2 separate regions of the Homo sapiens genome follow, and region 2 is linked to region 1. Evidence: fine-mapped expression QTL. A gene starts in region 1. The other region holds a variant in brackets. All regions are shown on one strand. Distances are between the middles of the regions. Region 1 holds the start of LPCAT3 (lysophosphatidylcholine acyltransferase 3). Region 2 overlaps EMG1 (EMG1 N1-specific pseudouridine methyltransferase).

The links.
Region 2: its variant is fine-mapped to the expression of LPCAT3 in whole blood (TOPMed, PIP above 0.99).

Annotation. Positions count from the first base shown.
Region 1 is chr12:7,015,225-7,023,749 of GRCh38, forward strand. It overlaps LPCAT3 (lysophosphatidylcholine acyltransferase 3), which reads right to left and starts at 3,252. Exons shown (of 13, transcript NM_005768.6): 1 at 3,050-3,252. The coding sequence starts at 3,200. RefSeq lists a silencer at 3,603-3,862.
Region 2 is chr12:6,977,442-6,985,441 of GRCh38, forward strand. It overlaps EMG1 (EMG1 N1-specific pseudouridine methyltransferase), which reads left to right. Exons shown (of 6, transcript NM_006331.8): 6 at 1-2,495. LPCAT3 (lysophosphatidylcholine acyltransferase 3) reads right to left here. Exons shown (of 13, transcript NM_005768.6): 2 at 5,991-6,098; 3 at 5,235-5,341; 4 at 4,370-4,463; 5 at 4,154-4,191; 6 at 3,563-3,741; 7 at 2,030-2,138; 8 at 1,162-1,248; 9 at 900-1,066; 10 at 157-304; 11 at 1-84. Among named protein-coding and RNA genes, the nearest start is that of EMG1, 11 kb to the left of the region's middle. The variant A/G (reference allele first, on the strand shown) is at 3,590.

The DNA.
Region 1 (8,525 bases):
CACTTGAAAATGTGAATGATATACCTAACTCTTCCCTTGGGGTATTTGCATTTAGGGAGGTGTTTTTAACCTGAATTAATCTAATCAGTGGAAAGTGAACCAGAAATCATTTTGGACTACAGGCTTTCTTGGTACCTCCAGCAAGGATTTCCTCCAGTATCCCAGTTCCCTGAGAGAGCTGGGTTCAAGAACCAGGAACTCCACTGCTGAAAGGCTACTGGTTTCTAGGTTACAATACACAGAAATGGTAATAACCTTTGTAAGGGAAACATATTTACAACCAAAATGCACTCCTACCACGCACACATCAAGCTTAATCAATTTATATTTATATGTATGTATTTAAACTGTGCCTACTAGGAATACAATCCTACCCGTCCACATGATGAGCTATACCTGATAGGAGGCAAGTTGAAGCCCCAAGTTGATCTAAAAATGAGAAATACTATGAATTACTGAAGGCAACAGGGTATGTGAGATAGGAAGGCAGGGTGTGGGAAATGGTAGAATGAGCAAGGGGGCTCGGGAGTGTGGTAGATGCATTACACCAAGTGTTTATTACTTTGATGATTGGTGGTAATGAGAGAAGATGAGAGAAGAGGAGTGGGATATGGAGAAAACAATTTCCTAGTCATCTGTATGCCCCGTGACAGTACACAGCAATAGCCCAGCAGGAGTGCACAGGCAATATGTGATTATGTCAACAAACAAAAGTTGAATTCTTTATGTCAACAAACAAAAGTTGAATTCCAAGTCCTAATTCCAGCCCTAACTCCATTTAACAGATTGCCCCTTATAACTGGTTGCTACTTGTGTTACATTCTGAATTTATTGTTGAGAAACCAACAGTTTCCTAACTAATGAATGTAATACAATTTTTTTTTTTTTTTGAGACAGGGTCTTGCTCTATCCTTCAGGCTGGAGTGCAGTGGTGCCACGGCTCACTGTAGCCTCAAACTTCCAGGCCCAAGTGATCCTCCCACCTCAATCTCGGGAGTAGCTGGGACCACAGGCATGGCATGAGCCACCACGCCCAGCTCATTTTTTTATTAATTTTTTTTTTTTTTTTGGAGACAGAGTCTTGCTCTGTCACCCAGGCTGGAGTGCAGTAGAGCTAACTTGGCTCACTACAACCTTCACCTCCAGGGTTCAAGTGATTCTCCTGCCTCAGCCTCCCAAGTAGCTGGGATTACAGGTGCCCACCACCATGCCCAGCTAATTTTTATACTTTTAGGAGAGATGGGGTTTCACCATGTTGGCCAGGCTGGTCTCAAACTCCTGACCTCAAGCGATCTGCCCACCTTGGCCTCCCAAAATGCCAGGATTACAGGCATGTGCCCCTGCGCCTGGCCTAATTTTTTGTAGAGACAAATAAAATGTTGCCCAGGCTGGCCTCAAGCGTTCCTCCCACCTTGGCCTCCCAAAGTGTTACGATTATAAGCATAAGCCGCTGCGTCCTGTCAAATGTAAACACTAATTGCTAATTACAATGTCAAAAATAACTGGGTCAGAAACAAGGATGAAAGAGTAGGAAGTTCAAAGCTGGTGTAGTGCAAATAAGCCTAGACTAGGGTGCTGATAAATTTGGATGATGTCTGGGTGACACTGAGCAAACTGCACAACCCCAGTTCCATTCCATCTTTAAAATCTTACGATTCCACAGAGGAAGAAAAAGGTGATCTTTATTTGGAAGAAAGGAAGATCTTGGTTTGATATGTAATAGGAAAGTAACAATGCTATTAGGCAAGGTTGTTTAAATATGAATTAATGCCTATCCCATTATCTAGATTGGGTTAACACCCTCTGGTGATATTATATATCAGTGTTTCTACTGAATACTGGATAAACGCCAAACTTCTCTCTGGCATTTAAGGCTTTCCACACCTGCCCAACTTTATCTCAAACTTCTCATGGTTCAGACCTCTAACCCTCTGCTCTAGCCCCAGTCCTGTTTCCTTATCACCACTTACAGCTTTTGCTTAATCCTTCCCACTCACCCGCTCCTAAAGTTCTATAACCTTCATAAAACGTTCCAACTGCTTAAATTTTATGTATATATATGTACAGGTACTTCCCAATCTTGGCCCTTCTACAGGACTTTATGGCAATCCTATGTGGTAGGCACTGTTGTCCTCATTTCATAGATAAGGAAATTAGGCCCAGAGGGTTTTGCGGCCTGCGTAGGGTCCTTCAGTTTGTGAGCAGCAACAAGGCTGGATCTGATTTGTTTGCCTTCAAAACCCATACTTTTTTCCATTGTACTATGCTACCTCCATGTATTAAACCATGGAGTGAGGATGCGGTAAAAAAGCCTATAAACCAGTTGTAATACAGCTTGTTGTGGCATAAATTCAGATACACCACATCCTTTGAACCACACGTGTAATAAACGCTTGGAATAGTATGGATCGATTTTAAGGAGGTTGTTAGTCCTGTTTCCCAAGTCCAGCATTAAAATGATATTCCAGGGTAAATGACAGGTAGGTGGCTTGGAAAATAAAAAAAGCAACATGGTATAAAAAGAAAATAGTAGGACTGGGACAGAAAAGAGACGAAAGTATAATATAAGCTGGCAATAAGCAAAACAGGCGCTCAGAATATGAAATATGGAATATGGGGCTGAAAAGGCCGAAAGGGCTAAAGTTAGGGGCCCTATGCCTACCGATGAGATGCGCGCGTGTGCGGGGTGGTTATTAATGACAGAGCAGGACACATGGCCAGACAGTGGAACTCAACAGAGCGACAAATAAAGACAGGTCGTGGGAGCAAGGGTAGAGCCTGGCACAAGAGGGCGGGGGCCCGACTGAGAGGCCAGAGGGCATGGCAGGGGTTGAAGAGAAAGATGAAGAGGTTCAGAGGGCACAGCGCCCCAGACTCGAGACAGGACTTCTGTCTTCCCTCAGTAGCTGTTGGTGTGCTTCAGGATTCACACCCGCACCCGGCACAGCCCTCCCGGGTGGCTCCGGGAAGAGAGGGAGGTCCTGTCCCCATTCCTCCCCTACTCCCCGGGGACTCCGCGAGGGGCGGAGGGAGGCAGGAGGGTCCTTACCCAGGAAGATGGAGATGATCAGCCGCAGCGCCTGTTCTGACGCGCCCAGGGACGTCGCCAACTTGTTAAGGCTCAGCTCCTGGAAACCCGACTGCAGAACCCCCGCCAGCGCCACCACAGTCCCCTCGTCCCCCTCCGCTGAGGACGCCATCTTAACTCCGGGAGCCCCACAGGGACCCCCCAGCTCCGCGCGCCCCGAATGCGGGCAAAACGCTATCGCTTCACCCCCAATTCCGGCTCGGGGCCCGCCCACGGCGTGCGCATTGGCTGGAGGCCCGCCCCGCGGCGCCAGCTCACCCCGTTATTGGCCGACCTGCGCAGAGGGCGGGGCCTAGCGCGGCAAGGTAGGAAGAGGGCGGGTCTGAAGGTTTGTAAGGCAAAGGTGACTCCTGCCGAGAATGCACACGGGGAGGCTCAGGGCTGGGCGGGGCTTGGCGTCGGGACCCAGAGCTGCCATTGGAAAGGTCTGAGCCCGTGGCCCGGCGACAGTTCAACTCCGTTCGAAATGCTCCCAGGAGGAGCCCTCCGGGGCGACCGTCCGGCCGGCCGGTTCGCTGCCTTCCCATTGGCTGAGGCGGGAGCAGGCGAGAGTCTGGACGCGGGGGGGCCGCCCGCGCGCGAGGTTACTCCCGGTCGCCGGCGCTGGGGTTACTGGGGCATGTAACGGGGAGGCGGGAACGCCCGCGCCGCCTTTCGCGCGCCCCCTAACGGCGCCTCCCGGCCCGTTCTTAAATTCTTAGGTTGTTAGACTCGTCGCCTTCACTCCCGGAGGTTCAGCGGAAAGCCCAGTGCCCCAGGAACAGACATTGTCTGCTCCTTTTATTTCATGGATCCCTTTTCCATGCAGTTTCCTGTAGTAAAACATGACCTTCCCCCTAGAGGCGATGAAATTAAGATATGCCTATTTAACACTTATTATTTTAATTAAAAATTCAAATAATTTTGCACTGAGTAATACATGTTTATGATAAAAGTTATAACAGTATAGAAATGTAAAACAGAAGAGTCCTGTTTCCCCTCCCTGCTTTTCATTCTCACTTCCTACAGGTAATCCTGTTAAGATTACGCCAAAAAAAAAAAAAAAAAAATCTGTCGAGCACTTACCATATGCCAGGGACTGTGCTGGGCTTGGGAATAGAATCAGGAGCCCAGAGCCACGGAGTGGGAGGATGCACAAATAATAGCATCAATTAACGTGTTATTGCAAGAGAAGGTAAGTGCTCTGAAGGAAAGGGTCAAGGTTCTGTGAGAGTATGTAACAAAGGAATGCTAAGAGTTTCTTGCAATAACTCTTAGTTACAATAATTTGTGGCGCATTCTTGTAAAATTACAGCTTATACTTCTGTAGCACTTGCACTTTATAAAGCACTTTCATCCGTATTATTTCACTTGCTTTGGCTGCGCAATAGAATATTTATTATGATGATGTCCTCTTACAGACACAGAGGCTTGGAGAAATTAAGAAACTGGGTAAGTTCCTTTACAAGTAAGCGGCAGACAGAATTTAAACCTAGGTCTGTCAAATTCCCTACCCCTACTCCCATTTTGGGCAAGATTTTAAAAAACAAAATATTTCATTCACACGGAAAAGTAGAGGATAATATAACTTCTCCAGGTTAAGAAACAAACATCACCTATACATTTGAAAAGCCGGTATATCCCTTCCTGAGGGCATTTCCCTCCTTCCTTTCTCAGAGGTCACCACTTTGCTGACTTTGGTATTTATCAATCCCATGCCTATTTTAATACTTTACATACAGCATATATCCAGAAAGGAAAATTAGTATAGTTTTGCATGCCTTATATTGGCCGGGCACAGTGGTTCATGCCTGTAATCCTAGTACTTAGGGAGGTTGAGGTGGGAAGATTGCTTGAGCCCAGGAGTTGGAGACCAGCCTGGGCAACATAGACCCTGTCTCTACAAAAAAAATAAAATAAAATTTAGATGAGCATGGTGGAACATGCCTGTAGTCCCAGCTACTCAGGAAGCTAAGGTGGGAGGATCACTTGAGCCTGGGAGGTTGAGGCTGTAGTGAGTCGTGATCATGACACTGCGCTCCAACCTGAAAGACAGAGCGAGACTCTGTCTTGCAAAAAAAAACAAAAATTATATATATAGGCCTGTAATCCCAGCAATTTGGGAGGCTGAGACGGGTGGATCACCTGAGGTCATGAGTTAGAGACCAGCCTGGCCAACATGGTGGAACCCTGTCTCTACTAAAAATACAAAAAAATTAGCCAGGCGTGATGGCCGGCTCCTGTAATCCCAGCTACTTGGGAGGCTGAGGCACGAGAATCACTTGAACCCGGGAGATGGAGTTTCATGTGCGTCCGTGTGAAGAGACCACCAGACAGGCTCTGTGTGAGCAACAAGGCTGTTTATTTCCCTGGGTGCAGGCGGGCTGAGTCCGAAAAGAGAGTCAGCAAAGGGTGGTGGATTATCATTAGTTCTTATAGGTTTTGGGATAGGCGGTGAAGTTAAGAGCAATGTTTTGTGGGCAGGGGTGGATCTCACAAAGTACATTCTCAAGGGTGGGGAGAATTACAAAGAACCTTCTTAAGGGTGGGGGGATTACAAAGTACCTTCTTAAGGGTGGGGGAGATTACAAAGTACATTGATCAGTTAGGGTAGGGCAGGAACAAATCACAATGGTGGAATGTCATCAGTTAAGGCTATTTTTACTTCTTTTGTGGATCTTCAGTTACTTCAGGCCATCTGGTTGTATATGTGCAAGTCACAGGGGATGCGATGGCTTGGCTTGGGCTCAGAGGCCTGACATGGAGGTTGCGGCGAGCCGAGACCATGCCATTGCACTCCAGCCTGGGCAACAAGAACAAAACTCCGTCTCAGAAAAAAAAAAAAAAAAAGCTGGGCATGGTGGCTTACCCCTGTAATCCCAGTATTTTGAGAGGCTGAGGCGGGCGGATCACCTGAGGTCAGGAGTTCGAAACCAGCCTGGCCAACGTGGTGAAACCCTGACTCTACTAAAAATACAAAAATTAGCCGAGCATGGTGGTGGGTGCCTGTAATCCCAGCTACTTGGAAGGCTGAGGCAGGAGAATTGCCTAAACCCAGGAGGCAGAGGTTGCAGTGAGCTGAGATCGCGCCATTGTACTCTAGCCTGTGTGACAGAGCAAGACTCCGTCTCGAAAAAAAAAAAAGAAAATTATATATATATATTTATAACTTCAGTGAAGCCTAAGCATATAGTGTTTATACAGTCCAATTAAACTGCCTTTACAAAATTATGACAGTAAGAGAAATCTGATATAGTTGACTTCATCTTGCTTTTTTTGAGAGTCTTTCTCTGTCACCCAAGCTGGAGTGCAAGCACGTGGTCTTAGCTCACTGCAACCTCTGCCTCCCAGGTTCAAGCAATTCTTGTGCCTCAGCCTCCCAAGAAGCTGGGATTACAGGCATGCACCACCATGCCCAGCTAATTTTTGTATTTTTAGTAGAGATGGGGTTTAGCCATGTTGGTCAGGCTGGTCTTGAACTCCTGACCTCAAGTGATCTGCCCGCCTCAGCCTCCCCAAGTGCTGGGATTAACAGGTGTGAGCCACTGTGCCCAGCCTCCCTCATGCTTTTAACCTCCAAGCTATCTTTGGTCATTCCTGGGCATAAACCAAACTGACTTTGAGAGAAATTTAGTTTATAGTTAAACTTAAAGCAGGGATAATAGCCCTTTCCCAAACTAAGCCACCTTTATAAAACTAATGAAAGGCTGCAAGGTTAGGCTTATGAAAGGGCCCTGAATTCCGCTAAAATGTAGGCATAATTAAGTGATTACCAACCGTTGTTCAGGAGGTCACCAGATTTGTAACTTCCCCAATTACGCCTCTAGATAACATCATATTGTAGAACTTAAGATTGACCTTTTAGGATGTCTTTTCAGATTTTGGCATTTCTGCAAACCCCAGCTGGACTCGTGACTCAGCCAGTCCTATGGACCCCACCCAGAGGTGGAGTCAGGGCATGAGGATCATTTGCCATACCTCTATGATTGCATCCCCAACAAAGCAGCAGCACTTATACCGTAGGCCCCTGCCCACCAAACTGTCTTTGAAAAATCCTAGCCTCCAAATTTTCAGGGAGATTGATTTGAGTAATAGCTTCATGTACCATGTGGCATGGTCAGCCTTGCATCAATTAAGATCTTTCTCTAATGCAATGCCATGGTCTCAGTGAATTGATTTTGTCTGTGCAGCGGGCAGGAAGAAGCCCACAGGGCAATTACATATGGTAGTGTATGGCAGTGTCCTAGGCCTTCACATTCACTCTCACACTCTTCACACTCACTGACTAACCCAGAACAACTGCGAGTCCTGCAAGCTCCATTCAGGTAAATGGCCTATACGGCTGTACCATTTTTAAATTTTTAAATTTTTTTAAATTTTTATTGAGATGGAGTTTTGCTCTTGTTGCCCAGGCTGGAGTGCAATGGCACGATCTCAGCTCACTGCAACCTCCACCTCCCGGGTTCAAGTGATTCTCCTGCCTCAGCCTCCCAAGTAGCTGGGATTACAGGCCTGTGCCACCACGCCTGGCTAATTTTGTATTTTTAGTAGAGACGGTTTCTCCATGTTGTTCAGGCTTGTCTTGAACTCCCGACCTCAGGTGATCCACCTGCCTTGGTCTCCCAAAGTGCTGGGATTATAGGCATGAGCCACCGTGCCCAGCCTTTTTAATCTTTTATACCATATTTGTACTGTACCTTTTCTATGTTTAGATGTGTTTAGATACACACAAATAGTTATTACAATTGTATTATTATTGCTCACAATATTCATTATAATAACATGCTGTGCAAGTTTTTAGCCAAGGAGTACTAGGCTATACCCTTGTAAACTAAAAGTAAAATTCGAAGCCCCCACTAACTGACCTAATGGACCCTCTCCTGGCAAAGCAGACCCCAGAGTAACCTTGAAAACTGAGTTCTTGGTCATGATGGGATGAGGTCAGGCACGCCTCCTTATGCTCACCCCTCCCTCCCTAACCGGTTTAGGCTTTCTAACCTAAGGGCTAAACAGAAACTAGCCCTTTCAAAAGACTCTACCAGTGATATCAACCAACTGTCTGATATTGCTCCTCCTTTTATGCCTGATAAGAGACTCTTGAATATGAAGTGGTTCTGACCAGTCTACAGAGAATGCAGTGAGGGTTTTCATGTTCTCTGCTTCACCTTTTGATGCCAGAGGGCCAAAAACTCTACCTTAGATCATCTTAATGCCACCATTTTTTGAACATGGGGCCCGTGGAGAAGCATGAAGCTCAATTGCACATGAGTATGTTTCTCCTTTCATAAAACTCATCACTCCTATAATGTACTAAATACGTACATTTGGCCACCCCACTCAGCATAAATTTCTCTTCCCTTTGGCCCTCCCTTGAAGTATCTGTTTCTGGTTTGTGGCTGGAGGCTGTGCTTCCCCTCCCGTCAGAATGGCCACCCTGCAGGCTGCAACCCTTTATGAG
Region 2 (8,000 bases), 38 kb before region 1:
TTGCACCAAATAGTAGAAGGGCTGGAGGACAGTAATGGCGGCCAGCTTGCTCAGGGTGGGGCTCTCTTGAATGAGCCTGGCAGCCTGGGGAGGGAGGAGGAGCTCATCAGCATCTTGTCCCTTATATTCCCCTTCACCCCCACCCTGGAGGCCTACCTGTCTTTCCACAATAACAATGAGGAATTCCATCTGGAAGCAGACCAGGTATCCTGAGTGCAGGCCGTGCCAGAGGGCCAGGAATAGCAACGAGAGACCCTGAGAGAGTTCTTTATTTCCAAGGAACTTGAGTCGTTTGAAGATGTAGCTGGAGAAAAGGGTGGGTGGGGCGACCCTCAAACTGACTGGTCCTTGCATCCCGCCACCTGCCTCTGGGTCCTCACCCTGAGGATTGGATTGGAGTGCTGGTGGGTTCCCACGTGTAGCCCCCAGAGGGTACAGGAGGCAGTGCTGACTGATTACTTTTAGAGATGGAAAGCAGACCCAAGGCGGAGCTGGAGACCGTGTGCGCACGAGCCACTTGGTTCAGCAGCAGTGACTGAGGCTGATGCTGAGATCAGTGGTGAACCAGACACTCTACTCAAGCTGCCCACACTCTAGTGGTGGGGACAAACAAGTAAAGCTGTTGATAAACAGGGCAGTGGAGGACATAAGTCCATTGGCAGAGCTGGAGTAACACCCAGGTCTTAACGCACTTTTATATCTTGCCTTTTTTTCAAATATGACAGTAATGGTTTTTTTGGGAGGGGGGTATAGGTGGGGGTCAAAGTCAGTGTGAGCGACAGGGGGTTCTGCCCAGATGGGAAAGACGCATAGGGGTGACATGGTACACCCCTGCCCTCCAATCTGGGAAGACAGTGGAAGGAAGGAACCAGGGTCCAGGCTCCCCACCAGCAGCTCACCGGGCCACCCAGGCGTTGGTGTTGATGTTGAATGAGGCAATGGTGCCAGTGAAGCGGGGGTTTGTTTCAAAGAGCCACACCTTCATGTTGGCACAGGCATCCCACTTTGCCTTGCCCTTTTCTTCAAAGCCATTGAAGCCCAGGCCCGTCAAAATGCATACTCCTTCCTGAGAGGGAATAGCTCAGTTAGGGCTCTTGCCACTCCCCATACTGGCCCCCATGGCTTGTCTAAATAGGACCTTGTTTCAACTTTTCTACTTACTGTGACCAGCCAACAGGTGACATATTTGTACAGCACAAACTTGCCCCAGATCAGCATGTACATGCAGCGGAACCAGAAGGGGTGGTTCTTGAGGGAAGAAAGCACAGTGCATTAGGGATATCACATGACTAGGCAGTTTCTCTCAGCACTCTTCCTTTTCACACTTGTGGCTGGCTACTTCATACCTGCCTGAGTCCTGCTGCCAGATGCCCTCAATAGTCTGGCCTGATTGCCTTCACAATAGGCAGAGAGGAATAAGCAGAGGGCCTGGAGAATATTCATTCGCCTTTCCCTTGGAGAGCCTCAAGGGCAGCACTGTATTTAACTTCTCTACTGTTTGCCTTCGTTGGCAAAGTGTTTGGAATGAGCATTTGGAATGTTAAGTACAGAGGGGCCCATATTGGATTTTAATTTAAGGAGAGAAACCTGCCCAGAATTACTGAACTGTTTTCAAGCCTTTCAGCTGGGCAGGAGCAAAAGCCAGCACTTCCCCCCTTCCCTTGGTTTCTGAATTCCCTAGAAGTGCCCAAATGTATCAGTCAAGAGAAGAAAATAGGATGGAGAATCAGAAGCTGCTGTGCTCTGAGGGGTCACGTGGATGTGATAAGGCAAGCTAGGAGCGGCTCCTAGAGAAGGCAACGGGTGCTAAATGTGCACCTGGCACAGCCCTGTGCCCGCGAAGGTTGTTCAGTGCTGGCTGATGAACATGTCCCAGCACGGCTGGCATTGACAACTCACAGATCTAGAGCAAAACCAACATGCACTTGTAGATGATATTTCCTACTTCTCTGCTATCTGTAGGGATCCTTGCCTGTCCATTTTCTAGCTCTGGTGCAGTCATGCTGCTGCTGCTTTAGTAGACACTCACGTCATAGTCTTCAGTGAGGAGATAGTCTTCTGTGATGTGGGGGCTGAGCAGTGTGTAGCCCACTAGGTAGAAAAGGCCCAGACTCAGGCGCTTGAGAGCAGGAATGATGCTGGAAAGGAACGAGTGAAGTTCCTGGTCACAGAGAGCAGAGACTATTCCCTTCACCCTCTGACCTTCAGTTATGGAGAGGAGTGTTTAGGGGTGTGGTTGTCTACCTGGAATGGGATGAGAAGCTCTGCTGCCCAAAGTGTTTCCTGTTTCAGGGAAAGATTTCTATGGCTGGCTATGAGGAATGGGGACTGCAAACCTCTTAAGAGTTGTAGGAAAGTCAGGGCAGCAGACAGTGGACCAGTCTTGTGTTTACCCCTCAGGGATGCTACTGATCTCAAGGTCTTGCCAGGTCTCACAATCTCCATTGGGACTGAAAACCCAGTGGAGGTAAGATAATAAAAATAACCACTTTGAATCTGCTCCTTCATTTCTTGGTTGAATTGATGCTGAAACACAGGATGGACAAGTTCTCAGTGAAGGAATTCTTCTGGCAATTAAACTTTTTTTTTTTTTTTTTTTTTACCATTTTAATTTTTATTTTCTAGAGTCAGGGCCTTGCTCTGCCACTCCGGCTAGAGTACAGAGGCATAGTCATTGCTCGCTGTGGCCTTGAACTCCTGGGCTCAAGCGATCCCCTTGCCTTGGCCACCTGAGTAGCTGGGACTATAGGCATGTACCACCTTGCCTGGATAATTTTTTTTTGTAGAGATGGGGTCTCACTATGTTGCCCAGGCTGGTCTTGAACTCCTGGCCTCCAGTGATCCTCCTGCCTTGGCCTCCCAGAGCGTTGGCATTACAGGCATGAGCCACTGTGCCCTCCTGCATTTCCTACTGATAAATATTTTTGAGACAGGATTTTGCTATGTTGCCCAGAATGGAGTGCAGTGGTGTGATCAAAGCTCACTGCAGCCTTGACCCACCTCCCCTGGACTCAAGCAATTCTCCCACTTCAGCCTCCTATGTAGCTTGGACTACAGATGCATGCCACTATGTCTGATAATTTTTGTATTTTTTTGTAGAGACAGAGTCTCTCTATGTTGCCAGGCTGGTCTAGAACTCACGGGCTCAAGTGATCCTCCCACCTCGGCCTCCCAAAGTGCTGGGATTATAGAGGTGAAACCACTGTGCCCAGCCTCTATCTACCTACCTACCTATCAACCTGCCTACCTACCTATCAATCATAAATATATTTCATATATACATGAAAATAGGCTTTAAAGGCAGAAATGTGACTGGTTCAGGCAAAATCCTGTGGCATAAATGTGGATTTTTATGTTTGTACTAGTGTTAGAATGGATAACTGGAAGAACCCTAAACTAAAAAGGGCCCACTCCTGGCACAGAGTGCCTGTTACAACAGTCCAGGGCCTGCATGACTCAGGTCTCTATGCCAGGGTCATGCTGGAGAATGCAGCTTTCAGAAGAGTCACTTCAGAGTGAGTGAAATACCTACACAAACATCTGGACCAAGAGGGGCAATTACCTGTTTGGTATCTTTCCTGGTATGTCA[A/G]TCAGCTCTCCCTGCACCAGCTTCATGTAGTGATTCATTGAGAACTGGGGCCCTACCAAGAAGGCCCCATAGAAGTAGGAGAAACCAGCAACTTCCAGCAGGGAAGGAACACCACGTATGGCATATTTCTGTTGCTCAGAGGACAAGGAATTCTATGCCAAGAAGAGAATGCATGGTTCAGGATAGCCTTGAATCTCCCCACAAGAGCCACTTTGAGTGTTCCCCACCTGTGTGCCCCACTGACTGGGGTTCTTCAAATAGCCTTCTCTTTGGGGGATGACAAATAGTTGCTTCTTGTGGAAATGCGTATGTGTGTGCATAGCTGGCTGTTGCTGCTTTAGCAAATGCCTTGCTGGCATTGATCTCTGGACTTTGTGCAAGAGCTGGATCCTGGGCAAATTAGATTTGTTGATCCTTGCTCAGTGCTATCTGAAAGGGAGATTGCACAGGCTGGGGAATGAGGGAGAGGCTCCGCTCTGGAATTTGGGTTCAGTCTTTTGTTAACAACTTTTTTCTTCCCTTTCATTAAGTCTTGAACCTCTCTGCCGATGAATGGGTACTTACCTGATCTTTCCCTCCGTCAAAGTAGTCAACAGCCAAACCTGAGCAGAGAGAGAACGGATGGGTAGGGTGGTGGGAGAGGACACTGAGGATGTGGCCTGTAGACTGAGTGCAGCCAGAAGTGTATGGCGGGGGGCGGAGGGGGGGTGCCGAGGAAGTTTTTAGTGAGATGGGGGAGGGACCTACATGTAAGGAAGGCAGGCAGTGACCATCACTCACCAATCAGCTTCAAAGTCAGAACACAATGTGGCATTGTCCACTTGATATCGTAGTTGCCGGTGGCAGTGTAATAGTATCCAGCCAGAAGGTAGGCCTAGGAGAGGCAGAAGTATTTATTCTAGCATCACTACTATTTCTTCTCCTTGCTCTGAAATTCAATGTTCTCTTTCCTTTTTCCTTTCTCCTCATCCCATCATTAAAAGCCTTAATAAATTCCTACAAATGGAGGTGCTGAAAACCTGTAATGGGAAGAGCGTTGCTCAAGGCTTCTTGGCAAAATGAGGGCTAAACTGAGATGAGAATTTAGATGCTGGGACCACAGGTGCATGCCACCCCACCCGGCTAATTTTTAATTTTTTTTGTTTCACCATGTTGCCCAGGCTGGAGGGCTAATTTTTGTATTTTTTTTGTAGAGATGGGGTTTCACCATGTTGCCCGGGTTAGTCTCAAACTCCTGGGCTCAAGCAATCTGACTGCCTTGGCCTCCCAAGGTGCTGGGATTACAGGTGTGAGCCACTTTGCCTGGCCTAGGCTTAGGTTCTTTAACTCATTCTAAGTTGCTTTTCTGTCTTGCCTTGAAGTGACTCTGCTCCTGGATAGTGGGTTAAACCAAAGAGCCTAATGGCACAGTATGCAAAGGGTTAGCTGGTGGCCCTTCCTTGAGGCAGGCAAAGAGTTACCATTACAATCTGTGGATGGAACACTTGGGCCTGTGATAAGCCACCTACCTGAAGTCATACTGCTAAGTGCTGGGAGAGGGGTTAGAAATTAGGTCTGCTAATTTCTATACCACAGTCCCCTGCCTACCCCTGTCCCCTGAACCGCTGTCAGCTGTAGCCTGAGCTGCTAAGGGAAAGACGTTTACCATCTGGAAGCAAAAGGTAGTGAGGACGGCAGTGATGGTGCGGCCCATTAGTCGAAGGATGAGGAACTGAAGCACAATACACAGCAGGGAGTGGTAGAGCTGGTTTCCTGGATGCAAGAAGAGAGAATTTAGCCTGGTTTTTACACTCCCACCGTCCTGAGACTTCCAATCACAACGTAATATATAAAGAAAAAATGTTGGCATCAGGATCTTTTTTTTCAGAATAACCTCATGTTTTGGAGGAGAGGATGGAAATTATTTATTAAAATAAAAAAGATTATTAGGGTGTTATTTTATTTCTTTTCTTTTTTTGTTTGTTTTTTTAGAGATGCGACTTGCTCTGTTGTCCAGACTTGAGTGCAGTAGCTCAATCATAGCTCACTGCAGCCTTGAATTCCGGGCTACCACACCCAGCTTGTTACTGTATTTTTGAATGTCTGAAGTGAAGAATGAATCTAAGTGGGGACTGCTTGGCTCGGTCATTCAGTTACATCCACAGCACAGAGAAACTGAGGATTCTTTGTTGATGAGGTATGGCAAGGGTAACCACCCTCAAAATGTTTTTATCTGACAGAAGAATGTACATAAAAGAAAAAAAGGAAAAGTTAAGCTGTGTTCCTCTTCATACAACCCTCTTTGCAAGTGGGAGCATTATAACTTCCCTACCTATTAGATTCTCTCAAGGAAATTTTGTTCAAGTCTGTTCCTTCCAGGTTCCCACTAATTGCGGTGTCACTGCTAATTTAGTTTACTCACCAAAGTTAAAATAAGCAATTGAGAGGCCTGTAAAGGTATGGAAGAGGTGGATGAGGTAGGTCTCCTTGTAGAAAAGGTAATGCCGATAAAACAAAGCAAAGGGGTAACCTAGATGGGGGAAAAGATAAGAAGAGTGTTATTTGTGCCTGGTGCCATCCCAGTTTGGTTTGGAAGTTTATCTGGCATGAAACGCAGCCCAGAGGGAGAGAGAAAAAAAAAACAACATACATTATATGGATGGCAACAGAGAAGGCAATAACGGTATCCCCAAGAACCAAAAGTTTTTTGTAAATACAAATTTTGAACTAAAGATATTAATATTTGATTGAGGCAATATAAAGCTGGGTCCTAAGACTAGGTTTCATTTATAGCTTATGAACTATTGCCAGACATTTTCTCTTACTTGAATTTTAAAAAATGATACAAGGAAGCTAGGCATGGTGGCTCCCATGTATAATCCCAGCACTCTGGGAGGCTGAGGCAAGGGGATTGCTTGAGCCGAGGAGTTCGACACCAGCCTGAGCAACATAGCGAAACCCCGTCTCTATTAAAAAACAAGATACAAAGATTTGAGCGTACCCATCTATGCTCCAGAAACACTCATTTACACTTTGTGATCTATCTTGCTAGCACTGTATTATCAGATTATGAGGAAAAATATAAATTAATATCAGGCTAAATACTGGAATTGCTGACTGCATATATAGCAGTTACAAGTTATGTGGAGATACTCCTCACAGTCTGTAATCTGGGCATCAACCAAGTTATAAAATCCATTTAAGTATACTAAAAAAATGTCTTCTAAAGCCATGATTCAGAGTATAGTCCAAAGGCCATGAGTGAACCACAGAGGATCTTCTGATGGGTCATGAACTGATTATACATGGCCAAGGGTTGCTTATTGAATTAAAAACGGTCAATAAAATTTGGTATTCCTAAACTAAAATTAGCACATTCCATGGCTTTACTGCAGACTCACCTTCAGTGTTCTATCTAGAGGTCTGGCGGCCATGCCTGGCAACATCCCCACTGCACTAGTGCATATGTGGAGGATGGGGATCTCTCAACTGCTTTTTGGAAAGACATTCTGCCTATTCTTTCATTGATTATTCTCTTGAGTTGGTCATGGTTTATACTTTCTGCAATTCTTGCTTTTATTTTTATTTATTTTGAGACAGGGTCTCTTGCTCTGTCACCCAGGCTGGAGTGCAGTGGCACGATCATCGCTCACTGCAGCCTTGACCTCCTGGGCTCAAGTGATCCTCCAACTTCAGCCTCTTGAGTAGCTGGGACCACAGGTGCTTGCCACCATGCCTGGCTATTTTGTAATTTTTGTGGACATGAGTTCTCACTATGTTGCCCAGGCTGGCCTTGACCTCCTGGGCTCAAGGAATCTTCCTGCCTTGGCCTCCCAAAGTGTTGGGATTACAGGCGTGAGTCACTGTGCCTGATGAATTGCTGCGATTCTTGCTTTTAAATTATGTAACTGCAGTTTTTATCATGGGCAATACAGTTTACTGTGAGTTTGCTTAACTCTAAAACGCTTAGAATAGTATCATACAGAAATAAATTGCTCAATTATTTGTTAAATAAGTAAATGCACACAATCATGTTATATGTTGGTTTCTGTCCTTCTAGTCATTTTTCCCCCATACATTAAAAAAAAAAAAAAAAAAAAGGCTGGGCGCGGTGGCTCATGCCTGTAATCCCAGCACTATGGGAGGCTGAGACGGGCGGATCATGAGGACAGGAGATCGAGACTATCCTGGCTAACACGGTGAAACCCCGTCTCTACTAAAAATACAAAAAAAAAAATTAGCCGGGTGTGGTGGCGGGCGCCTATAGTCCCAGCTACTAGGGAGGCTGAGGCAGGAGAATGGCATGAACACGGGAGGCGGAGCTTGCAGTGAGCTGAGATGGCACCACTGCACTCCAGCCTGGGCGACAGAGCGAGATTCCGTCTCAAAAAACCAAAATAAAACAAAACAAAAAACTGTACTGGCTGGTGCA